4 linked regions of the Homo sapiens genome follow. The protein of the gene in region 3 purifies or fractionates together with the protein of the main gene of each other region. This does not show direct contact. Each region holds a gene or a part of one and is shown on either strand. Other genes may lie near its edges.

Region 1 (3,500 bases), about 110 Mb from region 3:
ATTTCCTAGATAAGTTGCATTAATCACATAGCAATGACGTGACCATTTAAAATTTGTACAGTCTTCCTAATGAATTGTGCATCCCTGAAGACCTCCCAGAACTTGAAATAAAGTCACTAAAGAATTAGTACTGAGATGTCAGTGGTTACTTACATTTAGACAAACAACAACAAAACTCTCTTTAGATTCTATAGGTTTTTAAAATAGAATTTATTAAAATTAGCTCCTTACTATAAATATTACCTAAGCAGTCCATGCATTCCTTCAAGAAGGATTACAAAACAAGGGTAACGGGTGTTCCTTATAGCTGGAGGTCTATTTGCTCTTGCAATTAGAGAAGTGGGAAGGAATCTTTTTCATTGGGGGAAGGAAAAGATGAAAAATTTAAACATATCTCTTAACTTTGCTCTTCAGATGATGTTATAAGAACAATTAGCTATCTACAGACCATTATCATTAATCAATATTTCTGTATGAGCAGATGGCATTGGAGTGGGTAATGGAGGTAGAAATATCCAATGGAAACCACAAGGTAACACCTATAAACATTCACAGAAAGCTGGGGAAACATGGATGAATGGGCTTCCCCTTCCAGGGCAGTGGCACAGGCCAGCAAAGACCTCAAAACTGAAGACTATTATTTAGGTCTCAAGAAATCAGGCAGTTCATGAATAATTTCGATTACAATTGCCCCAGTAACAAACACATAGTCCATATAAGCAATGCAATGCATGTAAAATCATGCGGGCTGTTAGAAAGTTTATTTGGGTTTTTTGTTTGTTTGTTTGTTTCAAGAAGATAATGTAGCTCTATGCAAGGGTCTTCACAAGGGTACAACCTAGAAAAACAGGAAAACTAGTGGCTGCATAAAATAGCTTGCTTCTCTCTCTCCTGATTCTGTCTGAACCAATATTTGATTATATTTTATTCAGGGGCACCTCAGCTTCAAGTAAAGCCAAAACTCCTTTGCAGATTGAGATGGGGGCTGAAGAAATCTATTCATTGTTTCTGTTAGTCTATAGGAAATAGAAATTATTTGATTGTGACTTCAGGGCCAACCTGATTTTATCCACCACACCAACTCATTCCACACAGCGAGTTAGCTGGTTATTTCTGGAGATAAAATATTAGCATCATTGCATCAGCATCATTGTACCACACCTTTGACCAATTGCCACTTCTTATCTAAATGTCATATCATTCGTTTTTCATGATATGCCCTCAAGACCTGAGTCCTCTTTCCCCTAGTTCATTAGTGATTGATAATCCTCAGTGGGGAATTTGCAGGAGTCAGATATTGAAATATCTACACACATGCAACAGGTGTCAGATAAGTAGTGGTGCCTGAATCAGATTCTAGGTAAACCTAATATGATGTTAAAATCAAAACAGCTCAAATAATCTAAATCTCCAACTAATTTCCAGCATAGCCAAGCCCTGAAGTTTACTCAAAAACTGTAGTGTAGTCTAGATACTGTTTGGAATTATTATGGGAAGAAGAGAAGGGAGGAAACTTTTTTTTTTTTTTAGCTATTCCTGCTGCTCTCAGCTTTTATCTTATTCACTGATGCTGGAAAATCTGGATTAATTTATACCCTTGAGTATTATTAGAGGCACAGCCTCTATCCAGAGGAGCAGAACTAACATGACCTGCAGACATCCCCTGAGTTTGTATCTCTGTACCCGTAAAACTCACTGAGGAACATGGCTTTGAATGTGGGCCCAGGTATGAAGGTAAACAGGCTCTGCAAGTGTTTATGACAATGCAAGATTAACTTTAATATTTAAGGAAAAATTGACTTTAGGAAAAGCAAGCTAAGACAAAAATAGTAACACAAAATATTTTCTCCTGATATTAAAAAACAACCCTCAAGAGTTTTTAACATTTATCCATCTATGTAACTTTGCTACAACCTGTCTAAATTCATCCTTTGTCTCTAATATTGAAATTCCTCTGGTCAACAATTTTGTTGATTTTTAAAATATTATTTTATCCACAAATCTTCATTGTATCTTCTTCTTTAAATTGGTATGCACTTACAAAAATATCCACCAAAATATTATTATTATAAATATTTTGAACATGAAATTCATTCAGAACAATAACCAAACAAAACAAATCCCCCAGTGGCATAAAGCCCCAAATCTCCAGTTTCTCACATCTCCAGGAGAATTCCTGCAGTGAAAACAGCAATACTGGCACAGACAATATAAACTGTTACTCTGCTTGAAAAGTCACAAGGGACTACACAGGAAGAGCTGACTCTATATTGCTGTTTTCCTTTACAGTTCTAAATACAGGGACAACTTTCACTGTGGAGCTCTGACTTACATGAATGTTTTGTAATGGAAGCCAGTGCATTCAAACCACTTAAAAGCAAATTATGTGATCATCTTGCCATTGCAACATGATTTAAATTTTTGTGGACCATTTGTTGTAAAGATCCACTAAAGCATCAGAAGATATTAAGTCTCTCTCTAGGGTTTGTCTAACTTTCTTCTTAGTAGGAGATGGTTCTGAGCACTTAAGGGTCACACTTAGAAAAGCAACATCATTAAAACACATACTTAAAATCACAAGTGCACATGAACACCTAAATCTTTTAACTTATGAAAGTTAACAAAATCGCAATCGTGAATTTTAAATAAAATTTCTCATTTGGGGTATCTATCTAAGAAATAAGTGCTAATACTTTTGCAAAAACTGTGGGAACACAGTTATTTATTAAATATTTCAAGTCCAGAGGGATCACTTTTTTCTCATTTTTTTGTATAAAAACTGGTTCATTGTCCATATTTAGTTTATATATGTCATTTAGAATCCACTTACTGTTAGATGCTGGAACAGCCACGCCCTCATGATATTTGTGGCTACTTTGGGAAAGATGCCACGCTTTTTGTGACGCTTTTTGTCCTTATCAGGGTCATCATCGTCACCTGTGCTGGGGGAAGCTACACTGTTGTCCAAGCCATCACCTGCAAACATAGCGAATCAAATTTTGACTGATGCTACCTTGACATGCTTTATTCAAATAGAATGCCTTTGGATATAAACAAAACCAAAAGAGCAAATTTAAATGATTAATAGTTTCTTTGGTACTGTTTTTTTGTTGTGTTTTGTTTTCCAAGACAGAGAAAGAACAAGGCCTAGGCTCAAGAGCAGTCAGGTCTAAAGAACTTCTTCCAAAGAACATTGCCAAAAGTCAAAGGGAATGGAGGGAAATATCCAATCCCCTTGTGGCTTTGTTGCTATGGTAATTATTCCAATATGTATAGCTGAGACAGGTTAAGTGTAACTCCTACCGGGGAGTTAAACATGGTGGCAGTCATTAGCTGTGGCGCTATGGCTGCCTGGGCATTCAAATCCCACAGTCATTGACATTGACTTGTGAGAAGATTCATTTAAGATATCAACTATTTCCACAAGTGATCTATCTTAAGACTAGTTAAACTAGGATGGGGAAATGTAGGTAATCCATCATATAAGCAGTTTGACATAG
Region 2 (3,500 bases), on a different chromosome or scaffold from region 3:
GAGGTGGAGGTTCCAGTGAGCCAAGATCACACCACTGCACTCCAGCCTGGGTGACAGAGTGAAACTCCATCTCAAAAAAACAAACCAAGATGGCCCGAATTTTGAAACTTTATACTCCTCACTACTCTGCAAAAATATCTGTGACCACTCTTCTGTTCGGTGCCCAGATGGTACACAATGAAGTATTGAGCAAATGCTTTTAGCGTTGGTTTTGGCATCCAGCCCCTTTTGGTAAATCTGCTCCAAATTCACCTTTTGCTCAAAAATTTGTCTTCTCCCAGAAGTAGATTTATTCTCTCCCATTTTATATTTATTTGGTGTGAGCCTTTTTGTTATTATTTCCTTTCTCTTTACAAAGGCGGAAGAGACGGAATTTCAACAAGCAAGCGACAGAAATCCTGAATGAATATTTCTATTCCCATCTCAGCAACCCTTACCCCAGTGAGGAAGCCAAAGAGGAGTTAGCCAAGAAGTGTGGCATCACAGTCTCCCAGGTAAGCAGCACCTCAAAAGCCTCAGCCTGTAGCCTGGCCATGGCGGGGCCTCCGGGGCAGGCTCTTAGAGGTCTTGCTTTACTGGACATTCATGCCTTGCAAGTTCCATCAGCTATAGCCTTAAAATATCAAGGTAAGCACTTGATGTGTATGCGTATAAGTGAGTTTCTAGGTAAGTACTTGGCAAAACTTGAGAAGAACCAGCAGAAGGAAGAGAAGAATAAGTAGAGTACAATGTAAAAACAGGATTAGGGTTCTTCCCATCGAGCACTCCTTTGCTTCAAATGGGTGAGGTGTCTAAAGTGTACTAGGAAAGTTATCTGCATTCCTCATGCTGTTTTTTCAAATTCAGTCAATTCCTTAGCCATTTTTTGCCCAACCCAGGAACTTTAAGAGTCAGTGAATGGAACTAGTTGTTATATAGCCTTTTAAATGAAAGAACTTAAATGTCTCCTCTTGATGTGCTGACTCTATAACTGATGGGAGTGTAGGAATTTTAACATGTCACTGCGATTACATTGGAATGGTGAACAAAATGTCACTGAATGCCCCCTTCCCCCAAAGAGCAATAACCATAACAGGTGGTGTCTGATGACTTGGAAAGATACATGACATAAAATTTTTATAGGCCTAGAGTTTTCAACACGAATATGAAGCAGAGAAGTAGGCAATAATTATGTGTACGTGTATTTTGTCCACTCAAAAGATCCACCCAAACTTCTTATTCAGTCTGAACCTCAAATACCACCACTGGTTTCTAATTGAGAACCATAGTGATAATTCTGAAATCTATCGGAGAAGGTTTTTCTTAGAATTTTGTCACATGCAGGAGAATTAAATGTACTGATATTTCCATTAAAACTGGGGAGGGGAGGGAGTAGTGAAGGCTACTGTAGCGAGAAATTTCACTTACCATTTTTCAAATGAAGTAGATGCTCTTTTATATAAACTAAGCATCTGTACCTCCTTGAATTGAATCCTGACTTCTGTTAATCCCTGCAGGGTGCTGATCCCATCAACCTGTGTTTAGCTGTACAGAATTAGGTCCAGTCAGAATATAGAGCTCCACAAAAGTATTGACAATGAAGGGACTGTCCAAGCCTTCCCAACAAACTAAGATGATTTTACAGCAGCAAATATCCTTGAAAACATTCTTTCAGATAAAGCAGAATGAATTGACTCCTTTTTAACCTGGGCCTTCCTTAGGTGCTTTGACCCAGCTGGAGGTCATTTTTAGTCTTGACAGTTCTGGGAAACGGGAACGTCAGCGGTCAAACTCAAGTAGCCTAGTTTTTTCTAGGGCTGTCACCATTCTTATCCAAATCTAAACCCCTTTTCCACAAAAAAGGGAATTAATGCTTTTTGATACTTGCTACATGTTTGAGGAATGCTTCTAGGTATGGACCACAAATATGCAGCAAATATCAAATCACTGAATTTTATCATGGAACCTTCTGCTTTTAAAATATAATTAAATTACTACTGTCTGAATTCCAAGTGTGGAATTCAGAATTTCAACTTCCTGTTGAAGGTAAAAGGAATTCTCCTGGAGGTAATTTGTAGTATAGCTGGATACAAGTTAAAATCCTGATCTGTTCCCGCAACCTTCACTTCCTTCATTATGGAAACTCAAGGTACAAATAGTGTGTCCATTAAAATCCTTATTTACATATTGTGTCACCTTTCCCTTTCCTCTGTCCATGCCAAAGTCATGCCATTCTTTCTTCCCCATCACATCTGTCTCTCCCCAAAGCAACTAAGCTACCATTGCTAAACAAGTCCAATGGAAGACAGTATAATATGATGTCATAGAAGGAGCATTAAGCAAGGAGCCTATTTTTGACAAGAGTCAACTGTGGGATCCTAGGGAACTCACTCTTTCTTTTTGGATCTTAGTTGCCCCATTTACTAATCATGGTTTGTTGGATCACATGATTTATTAAATCTTTCTCCTAATTCCCAAAGCCAGGGAATACCTCTTGGGCTGTATCATTATTGTCTTTTTTTGAAGTCACAAATTCTTTTGAAATCTACTAAAAGCTATTGATTTCCCCCATGACCCAAAACAAAGATATGTTGCCCATACACCCAAATCCATCTGAAATCCGCCTATTGACTGTATCTCCTCAGATCCCTAAAGAGCCCTTTTTCTATACCAGAGCTACTCTAAGTGTGATCCACAGAATGCAGCATCAGCATCCCCTGGGAGCCTGTTAGAAATATAAATTCTTGAGTGTCACCCTAATTCTGAATCAGAATCTTTGAGGGTGAAATCTATAATAGAAATTTGTTTTAACAACTTCCCCATGAACACTTAACTTTGAAAAGCAATGTTCTATATGCTTTATCTGAGTGATCTTTTCCATGCTCACAGCTACAAATAATACCTCCATTTGAATACCTAATGGAACTTCTCCCCTGCAGCACCAAACTCATAAATTTTACTTCCTAATGGACTTCATCATGGCTCTGCCCAGAGGTTCTTCAAAATTAACTTGTTCAAAATGTGAATCAAACTCTTCCCATAAAACCTACTATTCTTTCTGTATTTCATGTCTCATTCTGTGTCTGTTATCTATACATCCCTAGTGCCTAACGCGTATTAGGCCCTTAGTCCATGACTGTTGAGTAATTAGTTCATTCATGATAACACTCATTTTATACATTGTCCAGATCATTGTCTGTTGGACAATGCAGGAAGTCCCTGAACTGACCTAGCACCTTCCTACCAGTTCCATTGTTGTCATTTAGAAGGGTATCATTCCCACAACATGTCCCCTCTTTACCCCCTTCAGCTCATATTTTTTTTACATATAATTGGACCTCAGGTATTTCTTCTTCAAAAGTCCTCTGAAATTATCTTCATCTTTTTCCCTTTTCTTTCAGCTTGTGCAGTTATCTGAGAAAAAAAATCTCCTTACCTTTTTTCTTCTTTTCCTATCCCATAAATCAAAAAGCAACCATAATTATGACTGATTCCTATGAATAGTGAAAGTTATGTCAAGA
Region 3 (3,500 bases):
TTCTTTTTTATAAAGAAAAAACCTGGTTTAGAAATTAGGACATCTAGAGCCAGACTTAAAATTTTATGAAACCAATGGGCCTGACTGATTTAATGTCATCTCATAAATTATCAGAATTTTTATGTTCTCACAAATTAGATTGTATATTTTGTTAGTTAAAACTCGTTCTACCTTCAATTTCTGATACATTTGTCTAGGAAATAATAACTGGGAATTCAACAATATTTTAAAAGGTTCAATAATGGTCTCATCAAAAATAACTGAGCCCCAAATCCAAATCACTGGCTAACCTACCTACCCCACAATGGTAGATACTTGCAAAATTGTAATATTTAGATTTTACAAGTTACATTTTAGATTTTGGAGAAATCTCCCGCAAAATGAGTCGGTCTAAGGGATCTATTTTCATCTACCTACAATATAATCTATTATACCATACTCTAAGATGTAATAAACACTTTCTATACATATAAGCTGACTATGTGAAAGTGAGCTTATGTGTGTGTTCATCTTTGTGCAGTTCTTGAGATCAGTATGATTATTAAATCTGAGTGGAATGCCCAAAGAAAGCAAATTGATGCTAGGAATACTGCTGATTTTGGGTTCTCTTGAAACACTGAGTAATGGAGATTTGTATACTATGTTACTTTTCCCTGTTTATACAAATGGAGTTCAAAAATGTGAGTCTACCAATACTCTGTAAAGTGCAAAAACAATTCTAGTTTTATCAGTAATAGTCCTAATAATAAAAACCACCACCGCTTATTGAGTACTTATTATATTCCAGATGCCCTTTTCATATATTACCATGATTAATAGCAATCCTACTGGATACATCTTACCCTTATTTTATAGGTGAGGTAACTATTTAAAAAGTTAAAAAAAAAAAACTTGCCCAAAGACAGTCAGTTATCCAGTGACAGAGCCAGACTATGAACCTGCTGGCTCACCCCAAAGGTCAGGCTCTTGACTCCTTTTAATGTGAGTGAAGGGAAAGTGACAGTACTTGAGAGAATGCGACAGGCCCTGTCTTAGGTATGGCGCCCTGGGAGAAGCAGGAAGAGAACCAGTGGCTTCGACTCAGATTTCCCTTGTTTTAAAAACAAAAGCTCATTTCTAATAGGAACGTAGATGGAGCACACATACTCTCTAGTCAAGCAAATCATAGAAACCTTTCACTCCATATCCACTATTTCCTCAGCCAGTGCTCAGTCTCATTTCAACCATAACACAGTAAATGAATTCTGGCTAATACGAAGATAATTAGCAGGAAAATCAGGGAAATTGGCAGATGCTGCTCAAGCAGGAGAAAAAAAATTCACTGAAGCCTCTTTGGGCTTTTAATCAAGTGTGTAAGGTACTCCTTTAGAGGAGCTACTGAATAATTCTATTTGAGTCACACAAGTGATTAGGAAAAGGTAAGGGGCATCCCACAAGGGGACAATTCTAGTGAACACCACACGTAAAGGAAGGGTGACAGAACAGGTATGCAATCACCCTGACCTACACAGGGAGGGAGGCTGGGCAGCAAGAGGGCTGAGCAGGAAATGGAGCCCCTCATTTGGCTGCAATTACCACTCCACAGGGGGCTAGGGCTGGGGAGGGGAAAAGATACGAAGGGCAAGTAAATTAATGGATGTGGCATTCCTAAGGAGAATGGGAACAGGGAGTTAGCCTCCAATAAATCAAACGCTCCAGACCCCCAAACGCACAGATGAGCAGTGCCTCTTCTGAGTTTGGCCTGCAGGTATGATAAACACGCCGTGTACATGTGTGCACACATGCACAGACTGAATTTTGTGAAGTAAATTGCAAATCCAAGAGTTTGGGGGGACAACACCAGAAAAACATTTACGTCATTCTTGATTCCAAAATATTCTGCTGGAAAATGTCCAAAATCTAATAAAATTTAAGTTATATTTCTCTGAGAGCTCTAACCGTGAAAAATAAAGAAAAAAATAAGCCAATTCCATTTGACTCCCTCTGTGTCTCTGAAGAGCTACTACAGCTGAGGGAGTTACTTGATGGATGTAAAAGTGTCTGAGGTGGGGTCATTAGCTGCTATGTCCTGAAGCCCAAATGAGGTCTTTAGTTTAATTCCAGTATCAGCACATCTCATGATTTCCTTTTATTAATTCCCTGGATTTGGGGATGTATCAAAAAGCAGGTGGTATAAGATAGGACATCAGCTTTTTTTTTCCACACTAAACAAAAATAACATTTGGCATACAAAAGTAACTTTACTGAGGAAGTCACTTGGAGGTCTAAAAATATATTAAATGATGCCTAAAAATACCAGTTATGAGGATTCAGGCCAAATATTATTGTGATCTTTCACCTTAAAAATATTTTCCGACTCATTTTATATTGAGACGTCCTCACATTTAAACTGTGCTCACAAGGAAAATTTATGTTTTCAGTTTACAGAATAGAAACTTGGAAAAGACTACGTACTTTTTCTGCCCTTTCTTTTCCAAACAATAGAAAGCCATTACCTGAGCCCAGCTTGTTCTGGAACAGTGCTCACAGACAAGCCAGGCAGCCATGCTGTCTCTTAAGCCACTATGTTTTCAAGGCTGGTTTTGGCTGAGAAGCTTCTAAGAAGGTAATCCTTTCTGCATTGTCATTAGAATAGCTTTTTTTTTTTTTTTTTTTTTAAAGAGAGGCTAGGCCTTGTGTTCTCAGAAGGCTTATTCTTTCAGTGATTTTTGCTTTTCTTTTTTTGTGGATAACATACTAAACACTCTTCCAGGTTCAGTCCTCCAAGAGTTCTCATAAGAGGGTAGAAAAATCTCATTTCTCATAAAATGGAGGGAAACAATTGCCTCCCTAGCAAAGTTTACCAGCTTAAGAGCAAGGATCATAAAATCCACTTCTGGCATTCACAGCACATTTATTTTAAGGCAGTACAAGGTTAGTGAGTCTTGCCATTTGTTAAGAAGCAACAAAGGTTTATCAACCTGGGGAGGGCTGGTGGTTTTGGGAGTAGTAGGGGCTAAATTCTTACAGCAGTCTAAAAAATTAGAAAAACAAAAAGCAAAAATATATTGCAGTTTTTTGGGTGGATTTTAAAAAAAAAACCTTTTTTTTAATGGTCTTATTCATCTGTATGTGACTGCTGTGTGTAGAGGGGGTTTCAATGAACAGAACAGACTCCCAATGAACAATGGGATATTTAATGCAAATAAATGCTCCTACTGACAAAGGAGTCTTGGCTACTCACCTATTTTTGAAAAGACATAAAAAATTCAAAATAACCACATTTTGAATTAAAATAGGTATCATTTTCCAAGTTTATGGACCACAAACTTCTAAAACTAACATGGTCCCAACCTTAACAACTATCCTCACCTGCTCTTTTCTATAACATCTACTTTGAACACATAATGCTTTCTTCATTAAAAAAATACCTGTGGTTGTTTAAATAAAAAGTCGCTGGAAAGCATACCTCGTATTTTTTCTCTCATTAATGGTGTTTATTTAGAACAAACAGAATGAGA
Region 4 (3,500 bases), on a different chromosome or scaffold from region 3:
GAGACCATTCTGGCTAACATGGTGAAACCCCGTCTCTACTAAAAATACAAAAAATTAGCCGGGCAGCCAGGCGTAGTGGCAGGCGCCTGTAGTCCCAGCTACTTGGGAGGCTGAGGCAGGAGAATGGCGTGAACCCGGGAGGCAGATCTTGCAGTAAGCTGAGATTGTACCACTACACTCCAGCCTGGGTGACAGAGTGAGACTCTGCCTCAAAAAAAAAAAAAAAAAAAAAAAGCAGCAAAAATATGCTCATTACTTGAGAGTCTTCTGCTACTCTCCGAGTAATACAGATAAAAAATGTGCCTCCCTCCTGCGTGCAGGACAAGAGAGAAATGCATTCTTCACCCACGTAGAGCCCTCCTGTCTCCCTTAGCACCTACCCAAGACATGGACACAGGCCCCCTTTCCTCCAGCCCTGTCCACCCGGCTCTGCAGGTCTTTCCAGAGGAGACAAACTGGAAACACCTGTCCTTGATCTTTGGAGAAAAACTCATCTCTATCACGCTGGCCTCCCCTGTGTCAACCACTTAGCACACAGCTCCCTCCCAGTGGATCAGATTAGCACCTCCAAGAATGAGGAAGTGGTTCTCCAGAAGGACCACAAGGTGCTTTTCAGGCCCCTGGGGCCATGGAAATTCAGCAGGACCAAAGTACACTGGGCCTGGAGCCCAAAAGGAGGAAACAAAACCCCACGTGGCTCCCACCCCTGAGCTCCGGAACCAGTGGAGGAGCAAACCTGTGGAGGAACGACAACCCCAGGCTGCAGGTGACAAATGACAAACACAGTCACAATAACCCCAGGACCTCTCAGGACAAAGGACAGTTCTGCCCCAGGTTTGTGGGATGCCAGAGCCTGGCCTATGTCACTGCCTCCTGTGCGTACCTTTGATCTACCTCCCAAATGGCCAGTGATGAAAGGGGTAGGCGCCCAGGGACACCTCTAAGAAAGGTGATGGATTACAAGGTGGAGAAGAATGCCAGGACCAGGCCCCTTTGTTTGCAGAGCCAGCCCGGCGCTCCAGGGAGGAATGTGCACAGGCCAGGACGCAGATGCCCCTGCTAATGGCCCAGTGTGCCCCAGGGCCCACTCTCCTGCCCGCCTGCCCTGCACAGCCAGATGTGGGCCTGTGCCTTTTATTGTGTGGCTCCAAGTGAGTGAAATGTTACACACTGCAGCTGTGTTCCAGGGTGATGGGGAGAGCGCAGATTCCTGAATCCTCCAGCGAGAAATAATCCCAGGGCCTGGAGCAGAGCCCGGGCTCTCCTGTAAAAAGAAAAGCAACTGCAGACGGCAGTGAACGGCCTTGGCCAGACACTTCCCGAGGACTTTCTTTCTTTCAGTATCGCCACGAGTGTATTCCAGTGTATTCAAAGCATCAACGAATTGGTCTCTACTTTTCAGGAGCAGTTTCATAAACTCTACACACAAGAGGTGCCACGTCACACTGTGGCTGCCAAGACACAATGAAAGGAGGTGACACACTTTAGTCCACCTGGAGGTGTCCCCGGTGTCCCCAGGGGCATGGCCTGGCTAGGAGTGGCACTTGTAATCGTCAGCAGGGCACCCGTATTCATCCTTCCTGGGTGCCGACAGGTTGCCGCTCGCTTGGGCAGCTGGAAGAAAGATTCCTAAAGATTCTTCTGATATCTTAGAAACAAAGCCAGGCCTGCAAAGGGCGTATTAAGTGCTATTATCTTTCCCCAAAAGAGAAGAGGAAGAGGAAGGGCAGACAATCTAACATGAACCATAATTAGAGCTGAGGGAGGAAGGAAGAGTAAAGAAAGGCCCAGCCTTGGGGTCCGAGGAAGCAGCTGGGGCTGGCGCACTGGCTGAGGTAGACAGCAGGCACGCCGCAGCTCCTGAGCCTTGGCCTGGCCACTCCAGGGGCTGGGCTGTGGGTGGGGACTGCACAAACCCCTCATCTTGGCAAGAACTCCAAGCATTGCTGACGGACCGGGATTCAGATCCAAGGCTCAGTATCCTCACAACACACACAAGTTACTTGAGCTCGCTAAGTCTCAGCGCTCTCTTCCAGAAAAGGGAGACCATCAGGATGGCATACATGCACGGTTCAGCAACGATCAGACTAGGGACAGAAAGTGCCCAAGCCACCTTGGGTACTTGAGTAGTAAAAGGAAGGGGGTCTTGTTAGCCGCGTTATTAGGCTGAGAGCTGGCGGGCTGTTTGCAGAGGGCTCCCAGGGCTTCCTGCCCAGCGCTGGGGTGGAGACAGGGACAGAGAGGTCTCTCCCCTGAGGGGTGGCTCTGAGGAGCACTTCCCTAGCTCTGGGAGCACCTCCCTCTGCCAGAGGGAATTTTCTAGATCACAGACATAGAATCCTTCAGTATAATCTTTCATTCATTTTGCCCAGGAGACAAAAGAGTAGTAGACTACTGCCTTCTAAAAAAAAAAAAAAATCGGCCGGGCACAGTGGCTCACGCCTGTAACCCCACGCTTTGGGAGGCCGAGGCAGGTGGATCACCTGAGGTCAGGAGTTCGAGACCAGCCTAGCCAACAAGGTGAAACCCCATCTCTACTAAAAATACAAAAATTAGCTGGGCATGGTGGTATGCGCCTGTAATCCCAGCTACTTGGGAGGCTGAGGCTGAATTGCTTGAACCCAGGAGGCAGAGATTGCAGTGAGCTGAGATGGCCCGACTGGACTCCAGCCTGGACTCCAGCAAGACTCCATCTCAAAAAAATAAAAATAAAAAAATAAAAAGAAGCATGTGAGAATCCTCCCCTTCCCTGACACAGTGAGGCATTCCGAGGGACCCTAAATTGTGTGCAGTGCTTCATCCCCAAGTTGATGGCCCCCATCCTCAGTCACCCTCATTTTCACTGGCCTCCTCCCTCCTGTTTCGCAGAGGCAACTCCCAGCGAGGGTAGGAGGCAACAGGTGAGGGATACCAGGTAGAGCTGCGCCAGGTGCATGGGGCAGGGGGTTGGGGGGGGGCGGTGGTTAGAGGTGTGTCTAGAGGGCCACGGTGCTCCTGGAGTACACTGAGCAGGACAGGAGATGCCGCCATGCAGACAATGGAGACACCCGAGGGACCCTGAGCTCAGCACTACATCCCACATTGCAGTGATGGATGTGTACCAAACACATTCCTGAGTCACAGAGTACAAACAGAAAGCTCACGAAACTTGGAGAGTCTAGTTTTCTGCTTTTACGAGAAACGGATAGACATCAAGGAAACCACTGTTCCTGCCCGAGCTGCACTCGAAAAGCCCCACGGCAGGACACGGGCCTGCATCCGGATTCAACATACTCTAAGATTCAAAACGCCCTCAATCTAGGAGAATTTAGTCCTGCTCAGCAGCATTTTGGTGGCAGCGATTTTTCTTGTCTCAGCGTTTTAGGAGCAGTGAGGCAGCGTGGAAACGACACAACTGTGAGCCATGATCCCTGTGAAGATGAAGCCACGCAACACGCCCTTCACTGTGGGGGCAGAAAGAAAGAACTGTGTTCCATGTTGTGATGGTTTTTAATACTCTT

The links. The genes of interacting proteins can lie anywhere in the genome.
Region 1: the proteins of MAP3K20 (region 3) and MEIS1 purify together in Homo sapiens (affinity purification with mass spectrometry; one large-scale study listed by BioGRID and IntAct). This does not show direct contact.
Region 2: the proteins of MAP3K20 (region 3) and PBX1 purify together in Homo sapiens (affinity purification with mass spectrometry; one large-scale study listed by BioGRID and IntAct). This does not show direct contact.
Region 4: the proteins of MAP3K20 (region 3) and TNS3 purify together in Homo sapiens (affinity purification with mass spectrometry, with the first as the bait; one large-scale study listed by BioGRID). This does not show direct contact.

Annotation. Positions count from the first base shown.
Region 1 is NC_000002.12:66,511,625-66,515,124, reverse strand, and holds part of MEIS1 (homeobox protein Meis1), read right to left. Parts: intron 2,977-3,500; coding exon 2,831-2,976; intron 1-2,830. UniProt on the Homo sapiens protein: Acts as a transcriptional regulator of PAX6. Acts as a transcriptional activator of PF4 in complex with PBX1 or PBX2. Required for hematopoiesis, megakaryocyte lineage development and vascular patterning.
Region 2 is NC_000001.11:164,807,184-164,810,683, forward strand, and holds part of PBX1 (pre-B-cell leukemia transcription factor 1), read left to right. Parts: intron 1-358; coding exon 359-494; intron 495-3,500. UniProt on the Homo sapiens protein: Transcription factor which binds the DNA sequence 5'-TGATTGAT-3' as part of a heterodimer with HOX proteins such as HOXA1, HOXA5, HOXB7 and HOXB8. Binds to the DNA sequence 5'-TGATTGAC-3' in complex with a nuclear factor which is not a class I HOX protein.
Region 3 is NC_000002.12:173,194,346-173,197,845, reverse strand, and holds part of MAP3K20 (mitogen-activated protein kinase kinase kinase 20), read right to left. Parts: intron 135-3,500; exon of another isoform or gene 1-134. UniProt on the Homo sapiens protein: Stress-activated component of a protein kinase signal transduction cascade that promotes programmed cell death in response to various stress, such as ribosomal stress, osmotic shock and ionizing radiation.
Region 4 is NC_000007.14:47,575,612-47,579,111, forward strand, and holds part of TNS3 (tensin-3), read right to left. Parts: intron 1-3,500. UniProt on the Homo sapiens protein: May act as a protein phosphatase and/or a lipid phosphatase. Involved in the dissociation of the integrin-tensin-actin complex. EGF activates TNS4 and down-regulates TNS3 which results in capping the tail of ITGB1.